Linked DNA regions of Homo sapiens: all the other regions are reported to be linked to region 1. The links are microRNA targets in miRTarBase. Many come from high-throughput screens and were not tested one by one. Region 1 holds a microRNA gene; each other region holds the end of a gene's coding sequence.

Evidence for each region. Region 1 holds the annotated microRNA hsa-miR-142-3p (UGUAGUGUUUCCUACUUUAUGGA, at 3,352-3,374, opposite strand). A microRNA usually pairs through its seed, bases 2 to 8, with sites in the 3' UTR of a target mRNA and lowers its output. Matches are read on the target gene's strand: a 7mer-m8 pairs with bases 2 to 8, a 7mer-A1 pairs with bases 2 to 7 and ends in A, and an 8mer does both.
Region 2: the mRNA of CUL5 is a reported target of hsa-miR-142-3p. Seed matches in the 3' UTR shown: 8mer at 2,702-2,709 and 7mer-A1 at 3,886-3,892.
Region 3: miRTarBase lists LAMC1 as a target of hsa-miR-142-3p. The part of its 3' UTR that is shown has no 7-base or 8-base seed match.
Region 4: the mRNA of ZNF676 is a reported target of hsa-miR-142-3p. Seed matches in the 3' UTR shown: 8mer at 4,586-4,593.
Region 5: the mRNA of PRPF38B is a reported target of hsa-miR-142-3p. Seed matches in the 3' UTR shown: 7mer-A1 at 3,040-3,046.

Annotation. Positions count from the first base shown.
Region 1 is chr17:58,327,894-58,332,999 of GRCh38, forward strand. MIR142 (microRNA 142) reads right to left here and starts at 3,425; the gene lies at 3,339-3,425. TSPOAP1 (TSPO associated protein 1) reads right to left here and starts at 902. Exons shown (of 32, transcript NM_004758.4): 1 at 1-902. The coding sequence starts at 27. TSPOAP1-AS1 (TSPOAP1, SUPT4H1 and RNF43 antisense RNA 1) reads left to right here. Exons shown (of 5, transcript NR_038410.1): 2 at 157-228. It overlaps MIR142HG (MIR142 host genes), which reads right to left and starts at 4,627. Exons shown (of 1, transcript NR_186557.1): 1 at 2,995-4,627. RefSeq lists silencers at 1-64, 4,635-4,944 and enhancers at 775-844, 1,375-1,544, 1,645-1,724, 3,515-3,654, 4,455-4,524 and 1 more.
Region 2 is chr11:108,103,722-108,108,827 of GRCh38, forward strand. CUL5 (cullin 5) reads left to right here. Exons shown (of 19, transcript NM_003478.6): 19 at 469-4,040. The coding sequence ends at 663. Among named protein-coding and RNA genes, the nearest start is that of ACAT1, 15 kb to the right of the region's middle.
Region 3 is chr1:183,141,796-183,146,882 of GRCh38, forward strand. It overlaps LAMC1 (laminin subunit gamma 1), which reads left to right. Exons shown (of 28, transcript NM_002293.4): 28 at 739-3,797. The coding sequence ends at 995. Among named protein-coding and RNA genes, the nearest start is that of LAMC1-AS1, 3.1 kb to the left of the region's middle.
Region 4 is chr19:22,175,198-22,180,303 of GRCh38, forward strand. It overlaps ZNF676 (zinc finger protein 676), which reads right to left. Exons shown (of 3, transcript NM_001001411.3): 3 at 3,892-5,106. The coding sequence ends at 4,753. Among named protein-coding and RNA genes, the nearest start is that of ZNF676, 19 kb to the right of the region's middle.
Region 5 is chr1:108,699,062-108,704,167 of GRCh38, forward strand. It overlaps PRPF38B (pre-mRNA processing factor 38B), which reads left to right. Exons shown (of 6, transcript NM_018061.4): 6 at 101-3,867. The coding sequence ends at 959. Among named protein-coding and RNA genes, the nearest start is that of PRPF38B, 9.3 kb to the left of the region's middle. RefSeq lists an enhancer at 4,452-4,541.

The DNA of each region.
Region 1 (5,106 bases):
CCGTGGGAGGGTTGTCAGTTGCTCCATGGTACTGCCAAGGGGCCCCAGAACCCGGGCCGGGGGACATCACCCAGCCAGGTGGGGGGACTGGCGAGGGTCATGCCAGGCCAGCCCCTCTCCCCTCTGAGCTCTTGCTTCACCGACGCTCCATCCAAGGTTGGCTGAGCTCTTCCCCACCCACAAAGGAGGCTGCAGAAGGCGCCAGGGCTGCTGGAGCTGGAGCCAGGGGTATGTGAGCTATGTTTGCTGGTAGCTGTGTGTGTGCGCGAGTATGTGGAGGAGCGAGGGTGTCCCTGTGGGGGTAGGGAGGATGTGCAGAGGCCACCGACAGCTGCGCCTGGGTGAGGGTGCGTGTGTGTGTCTCCAGGTCTGTCCGTGCAGGTCAATGCTGTCTCATGTGTTGGGAAGATGGGTGCCCCCACTTCTGTGTGTTGAGGGGGGTGGTGCTGTGTGTCACTGTCTGCCCATTTCAGAGTTGCCAGTTGTTTGTGTGTGTGTGTGTGGGTGTCTGTATTGCAGGGCTGTGGCAGTATGTGATGCTGTCCCTGGTTGTATCTGAGTGTGTCAGTGTCGTGCAGCTGTGTGCATCGGTGTCGTTGTGTGTCTGTCAGTGTCTGTGGGTCTGGCCGTCTGTCGCAACCCCTCAGCCCGGCCAGAGGCTTCAGGAGCTGCTGGGGGTGATCCCCAGTGGTCCGCTGTGGTCCTTTATCTCCGGCTCTGCTCTCTGCTGCTGCTCTTTCGCTTGCTGGGTGGCTGGGCTGGTCCTAAGGAGGCCTGGGTCGATGGGCTGCTTGCCTCATAGTCTCAGCCCCTGCTGGCCTCTGCTCTGGGGACTGCAGGGGTCCCTTACAGTCCAGGAGCCTCGAGATGGTGGGCTCCGAGGAGGGCTGAGCCTCAGAATTGGGTGGGGGGGTGAGCCGGGAAGAGCCAGCCCTCCCCTCCTCCTCCTCCTCCTCCCCTCCCACCCACCAATAGGAAGTCGGCTGCTGGTTTCCATGGTGATGGCGCTGGACTGGTGGGCTGAACCGGCTGACAGGGTCGGGGACAGAAGGAAGAGCAGGTTTCTCACGGCATGTCAGCCCAGGGCTCCCACATGTGGCCTCCCACCCTCATCTTCACACATTCTCACACCTTCCGGAGTACAGAGGCGAGTGGGGTGCAGATGGTCCTCCCTACATCGGGTGAGACTGATAGAGACAGAACGGGGGAGGGTATGACAGAGATCCAGCCACAGAGAAGGGCAGAACTAGAAAAGATGGGACTTGAGATGAAACAAAGAGAGAGACAGAAACCAAGAGAAAGAAACCGGGAAGACAAGCAAAGAGACAGGTAGAAATAGACGGAGAATTCCTTCTGCTTCCTCCTGGCAGATTGCACTTGGGGGGCAACCTGGCTGTCCCAGGCCACCAGGGAAGCCCACATGGCCTGTTGGGTTGGCTTTGTCCCGAATTGCCTGGAAGTTCATCTTCTGTCTAGCCTTAGATCTTGTTGCTAAATAATTTGGGGGACAAGGACGTGAGAATCCCCTCAGCCAGGAGTCAGTCTATATGCAGTGGCAGGGGTCTAGACAGAGTCCCCAGAGCCAGGGGTGTTGGGAGAAGCCCCGAGAGGCAGCCCCTCTCCACTCTGAACCCGGGACTCATTAGGCAAGCCAGTTTCAGCCAAGGTCGGGGGCCCTCGTGTGGCACCCCCACAGAATAGCAGCGGTGATACTGAACCCTAGAGCCCCTGACTGTGGGCTCCACCCAGGCAAGAGCCAATGGAACTGGAGGTAGGGGGTGCATGGGGAGGAGTGGACATCTTCACTTCCCTAAAGCAGTGTGTAGGTCAACACGCACGCCACTGCATGATGTGTTGCTGTTTAGGTCAGAGTATATATGCATGCCATTATGCGCATGCGTGTGTATAGTATGCATCTATAGAATAGACATTATCTATTTCTGTATATGTGAAGGGGCCATTGTGTGTATATATGTGTGTGCTATTATGTGTCTATGAGTCACATAATAAAACGTAACAAAAACACATTGGGTGTATCTGTATGTATGTTTCTGTGTCATTGCATCTATGTTTGTTTGCCACTGTGTCTATGTGTGTGCTGTTATGTGCATGGGAGGCTATCATTGCATGAGTTTATAAATTACAACACATCATGATATATATAGATATGGATGCTACTATATGGCACAATGTAGTAATTGATTACACAATATATGACATGCTCATATCGTCATGTAAATATGCATAATGACATGGTTTGATTTATATATATATATCACCATGTATCTATGTATTCTATATTTATCATGATATATGAACATGTCTCTATCTATGTATGTGTATGGAGCCACCGTGTTTATTATGCAAATGTCACTGTATGTGTGTGCTCTTCTATGTGTAAGACACGCCCTATGTTTCTATCATTGCATGTGTGTACTACTGAATATGTATGTGCCCTGGGTGTGTGTAATCCCTGTGTGTGTCATGCCAGTCATGTCACATGTGTCTGTGTGTGTGTTACTGGCACACTGAATGGGGCCTCTGTGTGTAAATGCATTTGCATCTCAGTGTGTGCTTTGTATATGAGTGTCTGTGCCCTTGTCTAAGATGCTGTGTATGTGCCACAGTGGATTTTGCCCAATTTTTATATGACCTAGGACCCCCTAGACTTTCTTAGATTAAAACTGGATGTAGGCAGCTTTCAGTTTGGGTATGTAGGGGGGCAGGATAGGGCCAGAGCTAGGGTAGAAGGTGAGAGGATGCCTTACATCCCTGCCCCTTTCTGCAGATGGCCCAGGCCCTTCTCTCCTCCGGCTGTGGCCTGGCCAGGCCCAGAGCCCTCTTCTGATCTCATAGGCAGGGCCAAACCCGTATCTTCTGGAGGAGCGACAGAGGTTCTCCCTCCCAGCCCTTCTGTGCGCCCATACTGTCCATGTGCCTGCCGCCCGCATTCAGCTCCCCACCCCAGCAACAGAGTCTCAGACAAAAGAGAAGCACAGTCCAGTCTTTATTAGCATTGGGTCCCTGGTCCCACCACCCATTCCCCTCCACGTACCATCCCTTCCCACCCCTTCCTCGTCCTTGACGCTGCGGCTGCATCAGGGTTCCACATGTCCAGCCCTCCCCGCCCCCAAAGACTGCAGGGCAGCAGAGGAGCTGCTGTGGCCTTTCCCCAGCTGTCCGGAACCAGGAAGGGCAGGAAAGCCATGGAGGCCTTTCAGGCATCTGGGCAGGGTAGGGAGGGGCCGTAAGGTGCTCACCTGTCACACGAGGTCCCCGAGCGCCGAGGAAGATGGTGGCGGGCAGCGGGCGGCAGCAGTGGCGTGATCTCCGAAGCCCACAGTACACTCATCCATAAAGTAGGAAACACTACACCCTCCAGTGCTGTTAGTAGTGCTTTCTACTTTATGGGTGACTGCACTGTCTGTCTGTCCGTCGGCGTGTACTCTTCAGGCTGCCCAGGCCTCCTGACTCCTGCTCCAAGAGCCCCCCAGCCCTCCTTGTGGCTTCCTAAGATCCCCCCAACCCTGCCAGGGCCCCCCGAGGGCCCGCCCTGGGCCTTGTGGGCGGTGACTCAGCATGGCGCCAGACTTGCCTCCTCTACCTCCCTCCCCCACTTCCTCTTCAGTTCCCTCTTCCCTTCCCCCTAAAGGCTCCACCCCATCCCCCCAGTTTCAGAGACACTCAGGTAGAGACTAGGGCCTCTGGAGGCCTCACCTTCAGTTCTGTGAACCCCTGGCTGGCCGCTTCCAGCCACGCTAGCCACCCTCCAGCGTCCAAATGAGGCAGCCACAGCTCCCCTGCCAAGGTCTTGGTCTCCAGTCCACCCCAACCGTGAGGTCCTGACTGCCCAGAGCCTCAGTCCCCACCCTTCAGCCTCCCCACCAGCCCAAGATCCTGACCCCCCAGGGCCTAAGTCCCCAGCCTCCCCAACAGCCCAGGGTCCTGACCCCCCAGGGCCTCAGGCCCTGGCCTCCCCACCAGCCCAAGGTCTTGAACACACCAGGGCCTCAATTCCCAGCCTCCCCACCAGCTCAAGGTCCTGACTCCCCCAGAGCCTCAGTCCCAGCCTCCATAGCAGCCCAAGGTCCTGACCCCCCAGGGCCTCAGTCCCCAGCCACTCCACCAGCCCCAAAGTCCTGACTCCCCAGAGCCTTGATTCTCGGCCTCCCCACCAGCCCAAAGTCCTGACTCCCTCACTGCCCTGCTGTTCCCCTGGCAGGAGCCCAAGGCTATCCCAACAAAAATGGTGGCCATGTTGGGCGGAGGAAGAGGCTGGCGCCCCTTGAGACACTGGTCCCACTTCTCAGCCTCTGCGTACCCTCTGCCATCCCCGCCTTACTCTCCAGCCCTCCTCCTTGGACACCTCTTTCCCCGCCTGGGGTCCCGGAGCCATTTTACCTTCCTTCACTAGAGAGGGTTTCAAGGCGCTTTGCCCTGAGCTTCCCGCATGGGGCTTGCACCCAAGCTCCTCGACACCCCCAACGCGCCTCCACCCAGACCAGCAGCCCAAGCCCCTAGAGGCCCCGAGCTGAGGAGCCCCAGTTGGGGCAGCAGTGAAGGTCCGGATCCTTACCTGAGGCTGCAGGGCGGAGGAGAGCTCGCCCTGTGCTCCAGGCTCCGAAGTGGGGTTCCCTTCAGGGAGGGCAGGGCTTATAACCCCGAGGCCACGTGGGCCAGATCTCAGGGCGCCCAACGGTCTCAGAGCGCGCCCCGCCCCCGCCCGCAGGGGATGAGCGCCCTCCCTCCCTCCCTCCCTGGGGAGGACAGACTGACAGGAAACAGAAGGGGGTGGGCCCGCGGGAGGGCTGGGGACCCTCTCTCATGCCCTGGGCAGGTGGCTTCCGGCCCCAGCTGCCCTTCCCCCCGTGGCACCAGCTCCAAGGGATGGCTCAAGAGCCTGGGACTGACTCAGGGCATTGAGGGTGACCCCAGAAGACCAGGGCTCCTCGACAGGGCCCTCGGTGAGTGCCCAAAACGGGGAGTCCAGAATTCCAGCACAAGAAAAGGACCTTCTCTCTGAGCCCCACCGCTGCTGACCTCAGCCCAGAAAACTCCCTTCCCTTCCCAACACTCAGGCCAGGCCCTGGCTCCTCTGCGTGTGCT
Region 2 (5,106 bases), not on the chromosome of region 1:
AATATTAAAACATTAGGTGTAGTTTTCTTTCAGCAGAGAAGCAGAGGTAATTTTGCTTTTCCTTATTTTTCAAAATCTCTATAGTCAGATTTTTTTTAAATACATACTTTAAGTTCTGGGATACATATGCAGAATGTGCAGGTTTGTTACATGGGTATACACGTGTCATGGTCATTTGCTGCACCCATCAACCCGTCATCTACATGAGGTGTTTCTCCTAATGCTTATCCCTCCCCTATCCCCCCACCCCAATAAGCAGATTCTCTTTTATGGGGCATGAGAAAACAAAAGATGTTTTTATTTGTTAAGTAAAAGATACTAGTCTCAACATTAATCCCCTAGTGATTATTATTCATTTGGGTAGATGTTGGATAGAGGATGAATATGCATAAAAAGTCATTTTTCAGTTTGTTGTACTTAAAATAATTTCGTATATTAATGCGCTTTTATTTTTATTTTTTCTTTTAGGAAGCTATCATACAAATAATGAAAATGAGAAAGAAAATTAGTAATGCTCAGCTGCAGACTGAATTAGTAGAAATTTTGAAAAACATGTTCTTGCCACAAAAGAAAATGATAAAAGAGCAAATAGAGTGGCTAATAGAGCACAAATACATCAGAAGAGATGAATCTGATATCAACACTTTCATATATATGGCATAATTTTGAATATCATGGACAATATTTAGAACCCAAATTTTGGAGTGCTTGGGCAGAAAGTTGTAAAGTTTGTGCTGGAGAAAGGTTTATTTGGACTTTGATTACATAAATATTAAAATCTCTGCCTTACCTTACAAAAACAACTATATTTTGCCAATCACATTAGTTAGCATGATGGCATTCCCTTCATGTTGCACACTCTTTGACAGCATGCTGTTTTGTGGAGAAACTTGCATTCATGAAGAGCCCATTATCAACTTTTAAAAGTGAATTTGATTTGTACCCACCAGGAGAAATACAGTTGGGAAGGGTGAGGGTGGGGTTCTTGTTGCTTTTTTCTCTTTTTTCCTCTCTTAAAAAATGTACTTGCACAAGGAAGGATCTTCAGATATTCATGCACTGAAAAATGCTGTTATCTTTTGTTTTTAAAAAATGCAATTAAAACTAGAAATAGCACTCTTGGTTTCTTTTGATGAAAAGAGTGAGCTGGTCAATGCAACATTGGGAAACGGCAGATGTAGGTGAGAAGTTAAGTATTTAATAGTATCAAATTGTTCAAACATTGCTCAGTATAATAACTGGATTTTAATGGTGACCTAAAAATGGTATTAAATATTTTCAACTTTCAAATGTTGGTTTTCTTTAAGCAGGAGACTGCTATTTTAGTTGTTGTTAAATGATGAGGAGTTTTTTTTTTTTTAAATATGGCTGGAAAGCTTGTTTTGAAAAATGAAGCTTATATTAATTGTTGCTTCAATAGTTTAAAAAATTTATGGAGATAGGTAGGTCATTATGATTGCAGAGCCAAAATAGCAAAACAAACATATTAAGTGTGTTTACTAAACATATTGTGTGTTTACTAACACACTTAATGTTTATATACCTAATATTTATTATGCCATATCTGAATTTATTAAAAACAACACAGAAATCTCCTGCTCTGATATAGTTATGTAACTGATCTCTTAATCTGTAGCATAGAAGTATTTTGGTATTTTAAGGTCTCATGATTAGGGATTTGTAGCCTCAGGTTTGAATCAGTCACCTAGGGGTAAGAGAAAAACCACAACATAAGACCTGAAAAACAGAAGCAAAATTGTTGCACTCTTAATACGAGCAGTAAACTTGCCAAATATATGTACATATATATTTATATATTTTAAAAATAAACATTTTTTAAATCGTCAGAAGGCAACATTTACCATGTTCCTTTCAGTCTATCCAAAGTAGCAACTTAACTAGTTGCTGGCAACTGAATACCCAGAGTAGTGGAAATTTTAGGACTTGAGGACGTGAACAACTTGAAAGAGAAAATTGATTCCCCTTGAGGAAAGAATGGCTCAACGTGGATTTTTATTCATTGTGGTGCACGTTTCAAATTTTCTTGCAAATTATTTTATATCTTATTTGATGTTAAGTAATATTTTTAAAGTATGGTTTTTGAAGATAGTAGGAAATGGAGTACAGAAAGGCATACAGTATTATGTTACAGTGGAGTGCTTTCAAGAGCATTTCGTAGGATCTGTCCCCATCCGAAGAGGCTTTGTGAACTGCCTGCTGAATGGAAGGAAAGCAACTTTAAAACATTTAGAGTTTTGCTGAGTATAGCCAAATGCCTGTTCTGAAACTTATAGGAAATTGGAATTTTGTTTAAAATTTTACACTTTAAGGTAGCAAATGTCAATTATTAGACCGAGCATATTGTGAAGAATTAAACTAAAATTAATACGTACAGTTTTCTCTAATTAGGTGACTGTTCATAATGGGTATATTTGGAATTTAGAAGAAATAATTTTGTAGTAATTGTGGCCCTTATGTTTAACAGATAATTCAGCATTGGCGTATTTGCTTGTCCCAATACAAGAATGCCAAAGGAGGAAACAGGAAAAATTGCCGTCCATTTTAAAAATTTAGGTTTGTTGTTTTAAACCATAATTGTTCTCAGAACTTTTTTGGAACTTCTAATTTTGGGTCATTTAATTTAAGAATGAGAGTCATGATGTTTTGATTTATGAAGGTGAATTTAATGCAAAAGTGGGTAACACTACATTCATAGCAAAGTTTTTTATTAAATTTTATAAATTTTTAATAGCCAATTATGTCCTAATTGTATTTTGGGGAATGAACAGCAGCAAATACTGTAAATGTACAGTTTTCTTTTTTTTTTTTTTTTGGTTATGTATACAAAAGTTTTAACTACTTTTTGGTGTTTATGAAAATCATTTAGTTGACAAGGTGCCTATGCCATTGTTAAATTTTCTTTAAGTAATTTAACAACAGATTTGCTAATTTAAAAAAAAATGAAAAAAAAAATCTTACCAGCAGTTTGTAAAGGTCTGGAATCACAGTTGGCATCCTTTATTCAGGTCTCTTCTCTCCAGCGTACACTTAAAATTGGTGCCGAGCAGGGATATAACCTGCAGTTAAGTGAAAAGAAAATCCAGCCTCCCCCTCCAAAAAAAAAAAAAAAATTTAATTTTTAAAAATTAGTGGTATGGCAATAAGACACTTCAGAGGCTATCTTAACCTCTGAATACCCATCTTCTAGTTTAAAGACAGAGACATCCCATCTGGAAAATGTTAACTTGTGTTGCCATCTCGTTGCCGGAGTAAGTAGACATAAGACAGAGTTTAAGAAGTAAAAATATAGAAAAATTTTGATGGTCACAATGAGATAAATATTAGAATATTACTATTCCAATGATTAAATGAGGATCTTGAAATAAATTCTGAAGTCTTCCAATTTTTACATTTATTGGAGGGGTCCCTGAGTTCTGTCAACTTTTTTATTTAAGTCTCTTGCTCTTATTTTGTGCATAAATGTTAAACCTTCCAAAAATGAAATGTTAGCTTTCTTTCTTTTACTTTTTATTAAATTTAATAGAAAATATGACCTGAGTAGTTAAAAAGTATTTTGCATTATTTGCAGTAAGATGTCTCTAGCACTGCTCAAAGGGCAAATTTTAAAACTTCAGTCTGGGTGAAAGATTTGCTAGTTTTACAGAAAGATTTGCTATCTTAAACTCAAGCTGGTTTTTCTGTTCTCATGTAAGTGACTGGGATGCTGTCTTATGAATTCTTCCAAGGTCATGTTTGTGAAATAAACATTACATGAGAGCTTTCCTGTCATCTACACTATATGTTGTCTGGAGTGTTGAACAAATTTATTTTAGTTTCTAAGTTGTAATCTATCCTCATATGGTCTATACGATTTTGAATGTGTGCCACTACATACTGAGATGATAATGCTGTACAATTTTAAGTGGTAGCAGTTTCTGTATGCAGTAGGCTGAAATATTTTGATGAACTGCTTAATTTTTGGATTTTATTTTTTAAGTTGTATAATTTATTTTCTTGCAAAATAAAAATGTAATATAAAAGCTTTTACCTATCCAGAAAATGTTGATGTTCTACTATAAAATAGTTACAAAGAGTTTAATTAAAATTTTTATAGTAGGTATATTTTTAAATTTGAAGGTAAATTAATCTCAGCCAGCCTTAGGAATCAGAAATATGAAAAGTAACCCACTTATTTATATTAGACTTCAAATTCTAATTCAAAATGAGAGCAGTCAGGAATGTAGCTTTTCCACTGATGATAGCATGTGGCTATATGCCTGGAAGAGGTAATAAAAAAAAAAAAATTCCAACCTGAAAGTGGTTAATATATTCATCAACTAAGATAGGCTATGTCATAACAAAATTCAAATTTTATAGCAGATAAAAGTAAAAAATGGGCCGGGCTCAGTGGCTCACGCCTGTAATCCCAGCACTTTGGGAGGCCAAGGTGGGTGGATCACCTGAGGACAGGAGTTCAAGACCAGCCTGGCAAACATGGTGAAACCCTGTCTCTACTAAAAATATAAAAATTAGCCGGGTGTAGTAGCGCGCGCCTGTAGTCCCAGCTACTCGGAAGGCTAAGGCAGGAGAATCGCTTGAACCCGGGAGGCGGAGGTTGCAGTGAACCAAGATTGTGCCACTGCACTCCAGCCTGGGCGACAGAATGAGACTGTCTCAAAAAAAAAAAAAAAAAAAAAAAAAAAGTAAAAAATGTAAAACATAATCATTTCACATTTTGGATATATTTGAAAATTTGTGAAATACTTATTTTTGTTTTTATTTTTATTTTTTGAGACAGAGTCTCACTTTGTCACCCAGGCTGGAGTGCAGTGGCGCGATCTCGGCTCGCTGTAAGCTCCATCTCCTGGGTTCATGCCATTCTCCTGCGTCAGCCTCCCGAGTAGCTGGGACTACAGGCGCCTGCCACCACACCTGGCTAATTTTTTGCAGTTTTAGTGGAGACAGGGTTTCACCATGTTAGCCAGGATGGTCTCAATCTCCTGACCTCGTGATCTAGCTGCCTCGGCCTCCCAAAGTGCTGGGATTACAGGTGTGAGCCATCGCGTCTGGCCTGAAATACTTATTTTTAAGCTAGAAATAGTTTGG
Region 3 (5,087 bases), not on the chromosome of region 1:
TGTTGCCTATAGGCTGTGCAAACTTGGGCAAATTATTTAACATCTGAGAATCACTGATGTAAAATGGTCTTGTGAGACTTTAATCAAGTCAAGTATGCATGAAATGCTGTCTATTGTGTCTGCTTTTGTTTGTTATGGAAACATCTCATTTCTTTCAAAAGAACCTCTTTTTCTTGCTAAGCTTAAAGTGAAGACTTGCTGAAATTATTTCAGCATTTTACTCCTGGCCATTTTCCATAGGAAGGCTCCTAATAGTGTCTAACTCCTGAAAGCAGAAAGTGACCTTCAAAACTGACCCATCTTCCCTGGAATCTCTCTAAGAGCTGAGGGATTAGGGTTCTTAGAGATTTGTGTATCTTTGATGGCACTAAAATGACATAGAGTTTACATGTATACACCTGGAAAAGGTATTAAATGTTATCAGATGGCCCTCAAAGGTCTAGAACATGGTAGCTGTGCATTGAGGAAACATTCTGCAAAAACCATTGTCTCAGAAAGAAACATCCAGCTCTATATTAATTGTATGCTCAGACCCATCCCTGCTGGGTTAGGTCAGCATTTGTACTTGGTTTGCATATTTTATACCATTGTGTGACATCAACAATCTGCAAGTCACATTTGCCGGGCTGCCTGTGCAGAATGGCAGCTGCTGGGCCTAGAGTCTAGTGCAGGTACTTGTGAAGGGATCATTCTTACTGAATATGTCTGTTCTCTTCTATGTACTTTCTGACCCTCCAGGGCAGCTGGATACAGTGGACCTGAATAAGCTAAACGAGATTGAAGGCACCCTAAACAAAGCCAAAGATGAAATGAAGGTCAGCGATCTTGATAGGAAAGTGTCTGACCTGGAGAATGAAGCCAAGAAGCAGGAGGCTGCCATCATGGACTATAACCGAGATATCGAGGAGATCATGAAGGACATTCGCAATCTGGAGGACATCAGGAAGACCTTACCATCTGGCTGCTTCAACACCCCGTCCATTGAAAAGCCCTAGTGTCTTTAGGGCTGGAAGGCAGCATCCCTCTGACAGGGGGGCAGTTGTGAGGCCACAGAGTGCCTTGACACAAAGATTACATTTTTCAGACCCCCACTCCTCTGCTGCTGTCCATGACTGTCCTTTTGAACCAGGAAAAGTCACAGAGTTTAAAGAGAAGCAAATTAAACATCCTGAATCGGGAACAAAGGGTTTTATCTAATAAAGTGTCTCTTCCATTCACGTTGCTACCTTACCCACACTTTCCCTTCTGATTTGCGTGAGGACGTGGCATCCTACGTTACTGTACAGTGGCATAAGCACATCGTGTGAGCCCATGTATGCTGGGGTAGAGCAAGTAGCCCTCCCCTGTCTCATCGATACCAGCAGAACCTCCTCAGTCTCAGTACTCTTGTTTCTATGAAGGAAAAGTTTGGCTACTAACAGTAGCATTGTGATGGCCAGTATATCCAGTCCATGGATAAAGAAAATGCATCTGCATCTCCTACCCCTCTTCCTTCTAAGCAAAAGGAAATAAACATCCTGTGCCAAAGGTATTGGTCATTTAGAATGTCGGTAGCCATCCATCAGTGCTTTTAGTTATTATGAGTGTAGGACACTGAGCCATCCGTGGGTCAGGATGCAATTATTTATAAAAGTCTCCAGGTGAACATGGCTGAAGATTTTTCTAGTATATTAATAATTGACTAGGAAGATGAACTTTTTTTCAGATCTTTGGGCAGCTGATAATTTAAATCTGGATGGGCAGCTTGCACTCACCAATAGACCAAAAGACATCTTTTGATATTCTTATAAATGGAACTTACACAGAAGAAATAGGGATATGATAACCACTAAAATTTTGTTTTCAAAATCAAACTAATTCTTACAGCTTTTTTATTAGTTAGTCTTGGAACTAGTGTTAAGTATCTGGCAGAGAACAGTTAATCCCTAAGGTCTTGACAAAACAGAAGAAAAACAAGCCTCCTCGTCCTAGTCTTTTCTAGCAAAGGGATAAAACTTAGATGGCAGCTTGTACTGTCAGAATCCCGTGTATCCATTTGTTCTTCTGTTGGAGAGATGAGACATTTGACCCTTAGCTCCAGTTTTCTTCTGATGTTTCCATCTTCCAGAATCCCTCAAAAAACATTGTTTGCCAAATCCTGGTGGCAAATACTTGCACTCAGTATTTCACACAGCTGCCAACGCTATCGAGTTCCTGCACTTTGTGATTTAAATCCACTCTAAACCTTCCCTCTAAGTGTAGAGGGAAGACCCTTACGTGGAGTTTCCTAGTGGGCTTCTCAACTTTTGATCCTCAGCTCTGTGGTTTTAAGACCACAGTGTGACAGTTCCCTGCCACACACCCCCTTCCTCCTACCAACCCACCTTTGAGATTCATATATAGCCTTTAACACTATGCAACTTTGTACTTTGCGTAGCAGGGGCGGGGTGGGGGGAAAGAAACTATTATCTGACACACTGGTGCTATTAATTATTTCAAATTTATATTTTTGTGTGAATGTTTTGTGTTTTGTTTATCATGATTATAGAATAAGGAATTTATGTAAATATACTTAGTCCTATTTCTAGAATGACACTCTGTTCACTTTGCTCAATTTTTCCTCTTCACTGGCACAATGTATCTGAATACCTCCTTCCCTCCCTTCTAGAATTCTTTGGATTGTACTCCAAAGAATTGTGCCTTGTGTTTGCAGCATCTCCATTCTCTAAAATTAATATAATTGCTTTCCTCCACACCCAGCCACTGTAAAGAGGTAACTTGGGTCCTCTTCCATTGCAGTCCTGATGATCCTAACCTGCAGCACGGTGGTTTTACAATGTTCCAGAGCAGGAACGCCAGGTTGACAAGCTATGGTAGGATTAGGAAAGTTTGCTGAAGAGGATCTTTGACGCCACAGTGGGACTAGCCAGGAATGAGGGAGAAATGCCCTTTCTGGCAATTGTTGGAGCTGGATAGGTAAGTTTTATAAGGGAGTACATTTTGACTGAGCACTTAGGGCATCAGGAACAGTGCTACTTACTGATGGGTAGACTGGGAGAGGTGGTGTAACTTAGTTCTTGATGATCCCACTTCCTGTTTCCATCTGCTTGGGATATACCAGAGTTTACCACAAGTGTTTTGACGATATACTCCTGAGCTTTCACTCTGCTGCTTCTCCCAGGCCTCTTCTACTATGGCAGGAGATGTGGCGTGCTGTTGCAAAGTTTTCACGTCATTGTTTCCTGGCTAGTTCATTTCATTAAGTGGCTACATCCTAACATATGCATTTGGTCAAGGTTGCAGAAGAGGACTGAAGATTGACTGCCAAGCTAGTTTGGGTGAAGTTCACTCCAGCAAGTCTCAGGCCACAATGGGGTGGTTTGGTTTGGTTTCCTTTTAACTTTCTTTTTGTTATTTGCTTTTCTCCTCCACCTGTGTGGTATATTTTTTAAGCAGAATTTTATTTTTTAAAATAAAAGGTTCTTTACAAGATGATACCTTAATTACACTCCCGCAACACAGCCATTATTTTATTGTCTAGCTCCAGTTATCTGTATTTTATGTAATGTAATTGACAGGATGGCTGCTGCAGAATGCTGGTTGACACAGGGATTATTATACTGCTATTTTTCCCTGAATTTTTTTCCTTTGAATTCCAACTGTGGACCTTTTATATGTGCCTTCACTTTAGCTGTTTGCCTTAATCTCTACAGCCTTGCTCTCCGGGGTGGTTAATAAAATGCAACACTTGGCATTTTTATGTTTTAAGAAAAACAGTATTTTATTTATAATAAAATCTGAATATTTGTAACCCTTTATATTTGGTGTGGCCTGAGTGTGGTACTGGGGACATAAGATGTTTTAAAAGGTATAATGAATGAAAAGCCATACATAATACCTTCTTTGGGTGACTTATTTTCTTGAGAACAATTCAGTATACATTTTATATATATATATATATGTATGTATATATGTATATATGCCTCTCTCAAGTTGGGATACTGCAGTGTAGTCTGGAAGTTGGTGAACTTTTTCTATAAAGAGCTAGATAGTAAATGTTTTAGGCTTTGCAGGCCATGCGCCTATGGGCTGTAGTTTACTGGAACCCCAGTGTAGCCTCAATACTCAGTGACAACTGACAGTCAGGCACAGTGGCTCATGCCTGTAATCCCAACACTTTAGGAGGCCGAGGTGGGCTGATCCCTTAAGGTTAGGAGCTCGAGACCAGCCTGACCAACATGGTAAAACCCAGTCTCTACTAAAAATACAAAAATAACTGAGCATGGTGGTGCGTACCTGTAATCCTAGCTACTCAGGAGGCTGAGGCAGGAGAATAGCTTGAACCCGAGAGGTGGAGTGCAGTGAGCTGAGATCATGCCACTGCACTCCAGCTGAGGCAACAAAGCAAGACTCCGTCTCAAAAAAAAAAAAAAAAACTAAGATTTGTTGGACATCCTAAATTAGCAGATGTATGTTAAAAGTTGTCTGTCTCTCAATACACACGTGTCTAGCTTAAGGTAGTTTCTTTAGATGATGAGAAGCTCTTAAGCCTATGATTTAATAAAAAGTAAGTAATGTGCTGCACTAACAGGCTAGAATCGGGTAATTTTACTAGAATTTACCTCACTCTTTCTGGAGGGAGGACCCATCTGAAGTGACCTGAGACCAGGTGAGGCCTTTGGGAGCTACAGAGACAGCAGGAAGGCTTTGGGCCTGCAAAGGCCTTCCCTTTACTCTTTGATGCCCTGTTTATTGCCCTGGGCCTCCGTGGATTTCATGCCACCTTCCCAATCTTAGGAATTGTTACAACTATGATACCTGTAAAGAAGAACCTGAACTACTCTCATTAGACTTCCTCGGAGAAAGCTTTAGAGGGCACTAATTACTAGTACTATTACAGCTTTCTTACATGCCCTGTTTTTAACCTTTATTGAGGACCATTTCCCCTCATTTGTAGGACTAATTCAGATGCAGCTATGTCTCCTTTATCATTACTGTCAGAGTGATAAGTGAGATTTTAAAATTTTGCTCCTATTCCATCAGTCATTTTCAGGACAGCAGTTTCTCAAAAGTTGCTACTAGCATAATCTGATTCAGAATATCCCCAG
Region 4 (5,106 bases), not on the chromosome of region 1:
TTCAGCCACTAAAATTTTTATTTAAAAAGTGAGCGATACATTTCTCCAAATTGTAGTATCAATATGGAAAATAAATATTATTCCAAATTTACAGGTTATTTTATTGTTTTGCAACCTTTAACATTCACTTTAAAATAGACAATTTTGCATGGAAATGTAGGTTGTGCTCTAAGTACATCCTAAATAACTAAATTTAAAATTGCTTACTTACTATTCTCTTAAAAATTGAATCTTTATAATATACATATGGTCTAGCAAATTATGTATTTGCCACACTATGTATAAAAATCTAATATTTTTCTTTTACAAAGAAACACCATGTTGATTTAATCCTCTCTTCGGTAGACAGTGTATGTCTTTTATGTTAATTAACCAATCTTAAAGTTATACTGATAAGCAAACTTTCCAGTTAAAACCAATGTTTCAGTGCATTAAAAAATACCGATGTTCTCCTTAAAACCTACAACATACCATGTGAAATCGCATGGCATGAAAACAACAGTGAGAAAACTGTAGCCATAACACAGAAAAAGGACTGTGATGCATATATGGTTTGAGTGCACTTAAAAAGACAAAACTTAGATAATTAAGACGTGAATGAAGCATTTCTCTTTAAATTCAGCAAGATTCAGCTTTGCAGCCTGGAAAAAGATGTTCTGCTCACATGAAGAATCAATGTTATTTCTTCACAATTTGTATTTTCCATCTCTGACTTGAAGTTACAAACTTCAGCAGGAATATTTATGACTAATTATAAAGCATCTGTTACACACTGAGCACTGTCATGTTTGTTTGCTACATTTATATATAAAAGCATCCACATGACTTATGAAGCTTCCCTAGTACTTACTGAAACAAATTGACTCAATAAATAAAATTTACTTTTGTTACTTATAAAAAGTTAAGGGAACAATAACTAAAGTAAGCCTATATATGGTTCTCCCATAGAAGCTAATGGAATGTTTTAACTAAATAAAATGTAACAATACACAAATTGTGGAATTATATCTAAAAATAATTTTGTTTGCATGATGAAATTTTACAAAAATTATTCTTTTAACTACAAATCAGCTCAGATTAAATACTTCATAAACTATAAAACAAAAAAATAAGAAACAAAAAGATTATGGGTCTAGCATGAGTATCATGCAAGTAAAAACAAAATTTACATGGAAATATTCTAAATGATAAGCTATAAGATAGGTGTATAAATTGAATACAAAGCAGAGAGTATACATTTGCTTTTATTTTATTTTTTTAATTTTTGTATTTTTAGTAGAGACGGGGTTTAGTAGAGGTCAGGGGTCTCGATCTCCTGACCTCGTGATCCGCCCGCCTCAGCCTCCCAAAGTGCTGGGATTACAGGCGTGAGCCACCGCGCCCAGCCTACATTTGCTTTTAGCATTTTTGAGGATTTTTGTTTCCTAGTAAATTAGACATCTTATTAAATGCTTTGTGGTTTCAATATTCCTCTTTTCTCCTGAAAATAGTTACAAACTTACAGTCAAACAAACACACTTACTCCTTAAACCTAAGTTATATCTTTAGACTAATAGATGTGTATATTTAACTCTATGTAAGTCAAAACTAAAACTCGATTATGTGCTTTCAGGCAGAGGCCACATGTGCAAAAAATACATAATAAATTTTTGAAAATTATTCAGGACTCAGAAATATATTGATTTTATTTACACTTATTTACAATTTTTATGATGACCATAAAAATAACCATGTAGTCAATAACAATTTAATTGTACAATTTAGAATAACTAAGACTGTAGAATTGGTTTGTAATACAAAACATAAAAGCCAGAGGTTATAGGTACCTTATTTATCACAATGTGATTATTATATATTGTATGACTGTATCAAAATATGCCATCTATGGCATAAATGTATACACATATTATGTACACACAAAAACTAAGAAAAATTTAAATGTAAAAAAAATTTAACCTGCAGGAACCATATTCTTTAACTTATTTGCAGTTTAAAGCCACTGAAAAAGAATACTAGAGATGTTAGTCTATTATGTTACCAAATAGTGTATTGTTACCATCTTTTAAATATACCCTTAAGTAAGGTGGAATAGGTTAAAACTAGTGGCATAATAACACTTTATTGAATGTATAACAGTATTTAACATGTTATAAATGTTGAAATAAAAAATTAACACATAATCTAAAACTTTAAAAATGCAATTTTATCACATAAAAGTACAATTAATAAAATGACATACTAATTTAATTAATTTTAACTATAAAATATGTTATTCTCTCATAATATTCTCTCATAATACTACATTAGTACATCACTTAGAGCCAGGTGCAGTGGCTCACACCTATTATCACAGCACTTTGGGAGGCCAAGGCAGACAGATCACATGAGGTCAAAAGTTCAAGAACAGCCTGGCCAACATGGCAAAACCTTGTTTTACTAAAATACAAAAATTAGCTGGATGTGGTTGTGGGCACCTGTAATCTCAGCTTCTTGGGAGGCTGAGACAGGAGAATATCTTGAACCTGGGAGGAGGAGCTTACAGTGAGCTGAGATCATACCACTGCACTCCAGCCTGGGAAACAGAGTGAGATTCCCTCTCAAAAAAAAAAAAAAAAAAAACTCTGAATGCCTACCTCATACATCACTCAATTCTATAAGTTAATCACAAATAGCCTTCCTACTTAGATTTTCATCGTGCATCTTACATTTTAATGTCCTTAGTCATCCATAAGAAATGTCATAATGACCATGTAAAAAGTCTCCCAAATCTTTGATGCAGAAAGAATTGATCACATGCTTTTATATGGGAATACAAGAGAAATTAAGAAATAGCATGAAGCAATTTAAGAGTTGAATTCCGTCATTATTCAGTTTCCAAATAAGCTTTTTTTTTTCTTTTGAGACAATCTCATTATCACCCGGGCTTCAGTGCAGTGGCAAAATCTCAGCTCACTGAAACCTCTGGCTCCCAGGTTCAAGTGATTCTCATGCCTCAGCCTCCCAAGTAGCTGGGACTACAGGTGTGCACCACCATGTTTGGCTAATTTTTGTATTTATTTTTAGTAGACATGGGGTTCCACCTTGTTGGCCAGGCTGGTCTTGAACTCCTGACCTCAGGTGATCTGCCCATCTTGGCATCACAAAGTATTGGCCTTACAGGTGTAAGCCACTGTGTCTGGCAAAAAAAAAAAAAAAAAAAAAAAATCGGTATTTTTAAGATAAAAGTATACTTTAAATGTAAATGTAACTCTTCAAAGGTCTACTTCTTTCAAAGTCATATACAAATAATTTTTCTTTTTAACAACTTTAGTTTTGGATTTTTTCCTATACTCAGCAGTCTGATTTAGTGTAATGTCTGAAGTTTGAGAGATAGGTATTTCTACTGTGAATTATCTATATTTACATAAACAATTTTGGATTAAATATTTTTATATTTACTGTATCTGCAAAAATATATTTTAGTATAAACTCTTTTGTGTTTTATAATTCTGTAGTTTTTGTAAAAATGTTTTTCCAAATTTATTAAATTTGCACGGTCATTCAATATAAATTCCCTGATGTTTAGCAAAGTTGGAACAACTACCTAAGGTTTTCCTGTAGTACAAAATGTGTACAATAAAATCTGTGATACAAGTAAAGGCACTACAACCCTCTTTATATTTGTAATGTTTTTCCTCAAAATAAATATTCTTCTGTATTTTAAGGGCTTTTATTTTCTGAAAGATCTAGTGACAATAATTGTACTTTTAATACTTTATTTAATATGAACTCTCTGGTGTTGAATAAGATGTGAGAAGATATTAGTGGCATTCACAATTTTTTTTTCCCAGTCTCTCTGTTGCCCAGGCTAGTATATAAATGCTTTCCTTTGCAATAAGGCATGAGTATTGGTTAAATGTGTGCCACATTGTTTATTCTAGTAGTTTTCTCCAGTATATTATCTTACCTACAATCAAGTGTGACAGCCATTTAAAGGCTTTGTCACATTCTTCACATTTCTAGGATTTCTCATTCATATGATTTCTTTTATATTCAGAAAAGTCTGAGGTGTTGCCAAAAGCATTGTCACATCTTTCAGGTTTGTAGAGTCTCTCATGTATGAATTAGCCTATGTTTCTTAAGAATTGAGGATCTGTTAGAGGCTTTCCCACATTCTTCACACATGCATGGTTTCTCTCCAGTATGAGTTGTCTTATATGTAGTAAGCCTTAAGGACTGGTTAAAGGCTTTGCCACATTCCACACAATTATAGGAATTCCCTCCAGTATGAATTACATGAATGTTTAGTAAGGATTGAGGAACAGCTAAAAGGCTTGCCACATTCTTCACATTTGTAGGGTTTCCCTCCTGTATAAATTCCCTTATGTTCAGTAAGGGTTGAGAACTAATGAAAAGCTTTGCCACGTTTTTCACATTTGTAGGGCTTTTCCTCCAGTATGAATTCTTTTATGAGTAGTAAGGTGTGAGGAACAGTTGAAGTCTTTATCACATTCTTCGCATTTGTAGGGTTTCTCTCCAGTATGAATTCTCTTATGTTCCACAAGGTTTGAGGACCGGTTGAAGCCTTTGTCACATTCTTCACGTTTGTAGTGTTTCTCTCCAGCATGAATTTTCTTATGTGTAATAAAGATTGAGGACTGTTTAAAAGCTTTGCCACATTCTTCACCTTTGTAGATTTTCTCTCCAGTATGAATTTTCTTATGTTTACTAGACTGAGAATCAGCTGAAGGATTTACCACATTCTTCACATTTTTAGGGATTCTCTCCAGTATGAATTTTCTTATGATAACTAACAGTTGAGGATGACTTAAAAGCTTTGCCACATTCTTCACATTTGTAGGGTTTCTCTCCAGTATGAATTCTCTTGTGTCTAGTAAGGCTTGAGGATCTGCTGAAGGCTTTGCCACATTCTTCACATTTGTAGGGTTTCTCTCCAGTATGAATTATCTTATGTTCAGTAAGGATCGAGGACCAGCTGAAGGCTTTGCCACATTCTTCACATTTGTAGCGTTTCTCTCCAGTATGAATTATCTTATGTTTAGTAAGGATTGAGAACGTACTAAAGCCTTTGCCACATTCTTCACATTTGTAAGGTTTCTCTGCAGC
Region 5 (5,106 bases), not on the chromosome of region 1:
TTGAGGACATGAATAAATAATGCTGTTGAAAGTTTTACTGTGAAAAGAATTGCATATGTTTTATTCATTGAAATTTTCTTTCTCCCTCCGCCTTCCTTAGGTCTCCAAGGAGATCTCTGAGTCCACGGAGGTCCCCAAGAAGGTCAAGAAGTAGAAGTCATCATCGGGAGGGCCATGGGTCTTCTAGTTTTGACAGAGAATTAGAAAGAGAGAAAGAACGCCAGCGACTAGAGCGTGAAGCCAAAGAAAGGGAGAAAGAACGGCGAAGATCCCGAAGTATTGACCGGGGGTTAGAACGCAGGCGCAGCAGAAGTAGGGAAAGGCATAGAAGTCGCAGTCGAAGTCGTGATAGGAAAGGGGATAGAAGGGACAGGGATCGAGAAAGAGAGAAAGAAAATGAGAGAGGTAGAAGACGAGATCGTGACTATGATAAGGAAAGAGGAAATGAACGAGAAAAAGAGAGAGAGCGATCAAGAGAAAGGTCCAAGGAACAGAGAAGTAGGGGAGAGGTAGAAGAGAAGAAACATAAAGAAGACAAAGATGATAGGCGGCACAGAGATGACAAAAGAGATTCCAAGAAAGAGAAAAAACACAGTAGAAGCAGAAGCAGAGAAAGGAAACACAGAAGTAGGAGTCGAAGTAGAAATGCAGGGAAACGAAGTAGAAGTAGAAGCAAAGAGAAATCAAGTAAACATAAAAATGAAAGTAAAGAAAAATCAAATAAACGAAGTCGAAGTGGCAGTCAAGGAAGAACTGACAGTGTTGAAAAATCAAAAAAACGGGAACATAGTCCCAGCAAAGAAAAATCTAGAAAGCGTAGTAGAAGCAAAGAACGTTCCCACAAACGAGATCACAGTGATAGTAAGGACCAGTCAGACAAACATGATCGTCGAAGGAGCCAAAGTATAGAACAAGAGAGCCAAGAAAAACAGCATAAAAACAAAGATGAGACTGTGTGAAAATATTTTGTAAAAGTGGATCACATTGAATCCTATAAATGATTAAATCTGCTTTTTTCCCCCACGTTGAGATTGTGCAGTAGTTCGCACTCCTCAAGCTCTCCCTGTAGGCTGCATTTTCATTTCCTCTTTCGTGTAGGGAAGTGCCTTTGTAATTCCATTTATTGCATTGGTGTTTTCACCCAATTGTTAAGTTTGATACATGATGCACAGATTGTTCTTGCATTTTTATTGTTTGTTTTTGAAATGTACAGTCTGTACATATGTCCTGAAAATGTTTTAATTCCTTTGGCATGGTTGCCATGTTGGTTAAATTTGTATAAGGCAATAAACTGCCACTAATCTATTTTTGTTTTGTAGGTGTGGGATTATGGTTTGTGTACTGAAGTTAGCATGGCTGTGCTTTTCGTAATAGAATGCTAAAGACTTTGAGAATGGATCTTGGATGTCTATTATAGGAGAAGTATGTGCTGCCAATGTACAAGAAGGCAGCATTGTAGGATTAACATTCTTGTCTACTGTATATTATCTTGGAAGGCTCTTGTTAATATGTTACACTTAATATTCTCCACAGTTACCTTTAGAGAGAATTTATGAGAAGTTAGTTTCTGATGCAGAGGTTTTTAGGCTGTGATTTCATCAAAAGTCCTTTTAGCATTCTACCTCAAAGGGACACTTAGTATGCCTAAAATTTATTCACTTAGTTTTCCTTTTTTATTTGAAAAAATACATGACATGTAATCTTTTTTTCTTGAATTCTTTCTCAGATTTTAAAGTACTATATTAAAGAAAAAAATTAATGTCTAAAGCCTAGCATTCTTGCAGAACCCTATACTAACATGTAATGGGGAGAGGGTGGGGCAGATGAGTAGAGAAACAGATTCAAGCCTCAAGCTTCCAAAGCATTTTTATAAATGGAAAATCCTTAAATTATGAAACAGCTTGATATAGTGTCCTTTTTTTAAAATTCAGAACTTTTTTTATTGATAATGGAGATTGCTGTTTGAGTTTTTAAACTTAATCTAGAACAGAGGAGTATTAAAAGTAATGCTGTGCTGCATTATTTAAGACTATCAGCAAATTATTTGATAGATTGTTCTTACAACTTGTATTCTGATTACAGAACCATCATGAGTGTGGAATAAATACTGGATTAAATCCTTTATCCTGGGTCTTGGCTTTTCCCCCATTTGTTAAATTTTTTTAGCATATTTATATTGTGGAAATTGATGAAACGTCAGTAGAGTCACACTTTGTGTACAGGGATGTCTTAGTGCCCAGATGACAAGTGAATTTTGGAGAAATGCATAGACTGGGATTGGGCATGTGGTAATCAATAATCTTTATTAGAATACTTGATAATGGCAGTTCCCTTTGTCAGTGGTTGTTACATGTGTCATTTGATTACTTTGTTCCATGTCAAAGACGTTTATTGGGATACCTTTTACTTGGACAATATGTTAGCATTTTTTAAAATTTGGACTTGAAATTCTTTAAGATAATTCACCCAATTCTTTTTAGAAAAGAAAATAGAGGCCCAAAGTAATGATGTCAGTGCTAGGGCTAAAACTCAGTATTCTGACAGTGTAGTGAACCTGGCACGCACATTGAGGTTTGTTTTATCTCACTGGTTATACTGGCCAACTAATGCGCACTCAGAAGCCACCTTGCAAAAATGTTAAATGGAGCAAACGAGTACACTTGCAAGAGTCCTCCATATGTGGGCTTAACATATGTACCACTCCATTTTAGAAAAATCTCATTAAATGAATTCTTCTAAAAATGATATGCTTTTTTCTTTTTTAAGAAAATTCCTTTGTCTTTTAAATTGAGCATCAAGTGAATTAGTGCTATAGACACCCAGAAGTTAGAAAAACCTATTGTATAATATGAAAGCCACTAAATTTGTCTTGTGTTGAAAATCTACTTTTAGCATACCTAAATTATGGAGCTACTACTTTGGATATGGTTCCATGTGAAATGTTTTATCTGACTATTTTAAGTAAAATGTGGAAAGAATTTAAATTACTTCACATGGAGGTGAAAGAACTATCACCTCGATTGACAGTTCGATGATCGTCACTACATTTGATTTCTTGTGGGTTTTTAGTTTGTTTTTGTTTTGAGACGGGCCTGGCTCTGTCACCCAGACTGGAGTGCAGTGGTGCAATCTCTGCTCACTGCAGCCTCCACTTCCCTGGCTCAAGTGATCCTCCGAACTTGGCCTCCTAAGTAGCTGGGACCACAGGTGCATGCTAGCACACCCGGCTAATTTGTATTTTTGGTAGGGTTGGGATTTCGCCATGTTGCCCAGGCTGGTCTTGAACTCCTGGCCTCAAGTGATCCACCCACCTCAGCCTCCCAAAGCGCTGTGATTACAGGTGTGAGCCACCACTCCAGTCCCTTCTTACGATTTTTAAATATGTTTGCTTTTGAGGAAAATTATGGTAGGTGTGAGAACATGTAAATTGTGCTAGTTATTGCTATATATATGCATGATTTATTTGGAGAGTGGCTTCCTAAGAAACTGGGAAAACAAGTGGCTATGAAAGACATCTCACATTTCTTGAAACATGAGAACATTTGGACACGAACATCACACGCCGGGGCCTGTTGTGGGGTGGGGGACTAGGGGAGGGATAATATTAGGAGAAATACCTAATGTAGATGACAGGTTGATGGGTGCAGCTCACCACCAAGGTACATGTATATCTAGGTAACAAACCGGCACGTTCTGCACATGTATCTGAACTTAAAGTATAATTTAAAAAAATTTTTAATACAGCTTAATAAGCATCCTCCATCCAGTTTTTGTACTTACTGGAATGATTTCACCTTTCCATGTATTAAAATCTTTTGCCTGTTTTTAATGTTCAATTTGCAATTAAATTCTATACATGGGCGAGTATATCATCAATCTTAAACTTTTAATATAAAGTGTTCATTTTAATATTGCCCTGTTTTTATCTCCTAACTCTGATTTAGTTCCTCAGTTCCTCTAAGGCAATGGTTGTTTTGAGTTCTGGGCCCACTTTTTAGTAATCTGATGAAAGCTACCATCCTGTCTAAAAAAAAGTACCCCACTAGGTGCAGTGGCTCACATCTGTAATCCCAGCACTTTGGGAGTCCGAGGCCAGTAGGTCACCTGAGGTCAGGAGTTTGAGACCAGCCTGGCCAACATGCTGAAACCCCATGTCTACTAAAAAGTGGAAAATACGGGCCGGGTGTGGTGGCTCATGCCTGTAATCCCAGCACTTTGGGAGGCCAAGGCGGGCAGATCACAAGGTCAGGAGTTCGAGACCAGCCTGGCTAACACAGTGAAACCCCGTTTCTAATAAAAATACAAAAATTAGCCGGGTGTGGTGGTGTATGCCTGTAGTCTCAGCTACTTGGGAGGCTGAGGTAGGAGAATCCCTTGAAACCAGGAGGCAGAGGTTGCAGTGAGCTGAGATCACGCCACTGCACTCCAGCCTGGTTGACAGAGCAAGACTCCGTCTCAAAAAATCAAAATACAAAATACAAAATACGCCGGGTGTGGTGGTGCACGCCTGTAATCCCAGCTACTCCGGATGCTGAGGCAGCAGAGTCGCTTAGAACCTGGGAGGCGGAAGTTGCGGTTAGCCGAGATCTCACCACTGCACTCCAGCCTGGGCGAGAGAAGGAGGCTGTGTCTCAAAAAGTACCTTAAAATTTGTGTGTAACTTCAAAGGAACTCACAAACTGCCCTAGGACTTTGGTTCTGTTCATTAACTGATTTTTTTAAAACTATGCTTAGATGTACAGTGTTTGGGAATTAATAAACCAGAAACTTAAGTTCCTAAGAGTACTTAGGCAGTTAGTTGCAAAGGCAGTATCTGTTTTGTTATTTTACTTAGAGCTGCAGAGGAAGAAAAAAATGACAATGGTATTCACTTAATTCTCTTCCCTAAAAGTTGTGCTTTATTATAAAGTTTTTGGTTAGTAGAGATGAGGTCCCACCACTGGCAGTTTGTACATCTTTCAACTGATGCCAACGTGCAACCTCAAACACTGACTAGTGGACCAATTCTCAGGTGATATTGGCCAACTGATGGGCGTTGATTCTGTTCCTAGTTTGATTCTATTACGTAAATGCTGAAATCAGCCTTGAATGACTAAATTATAGGAC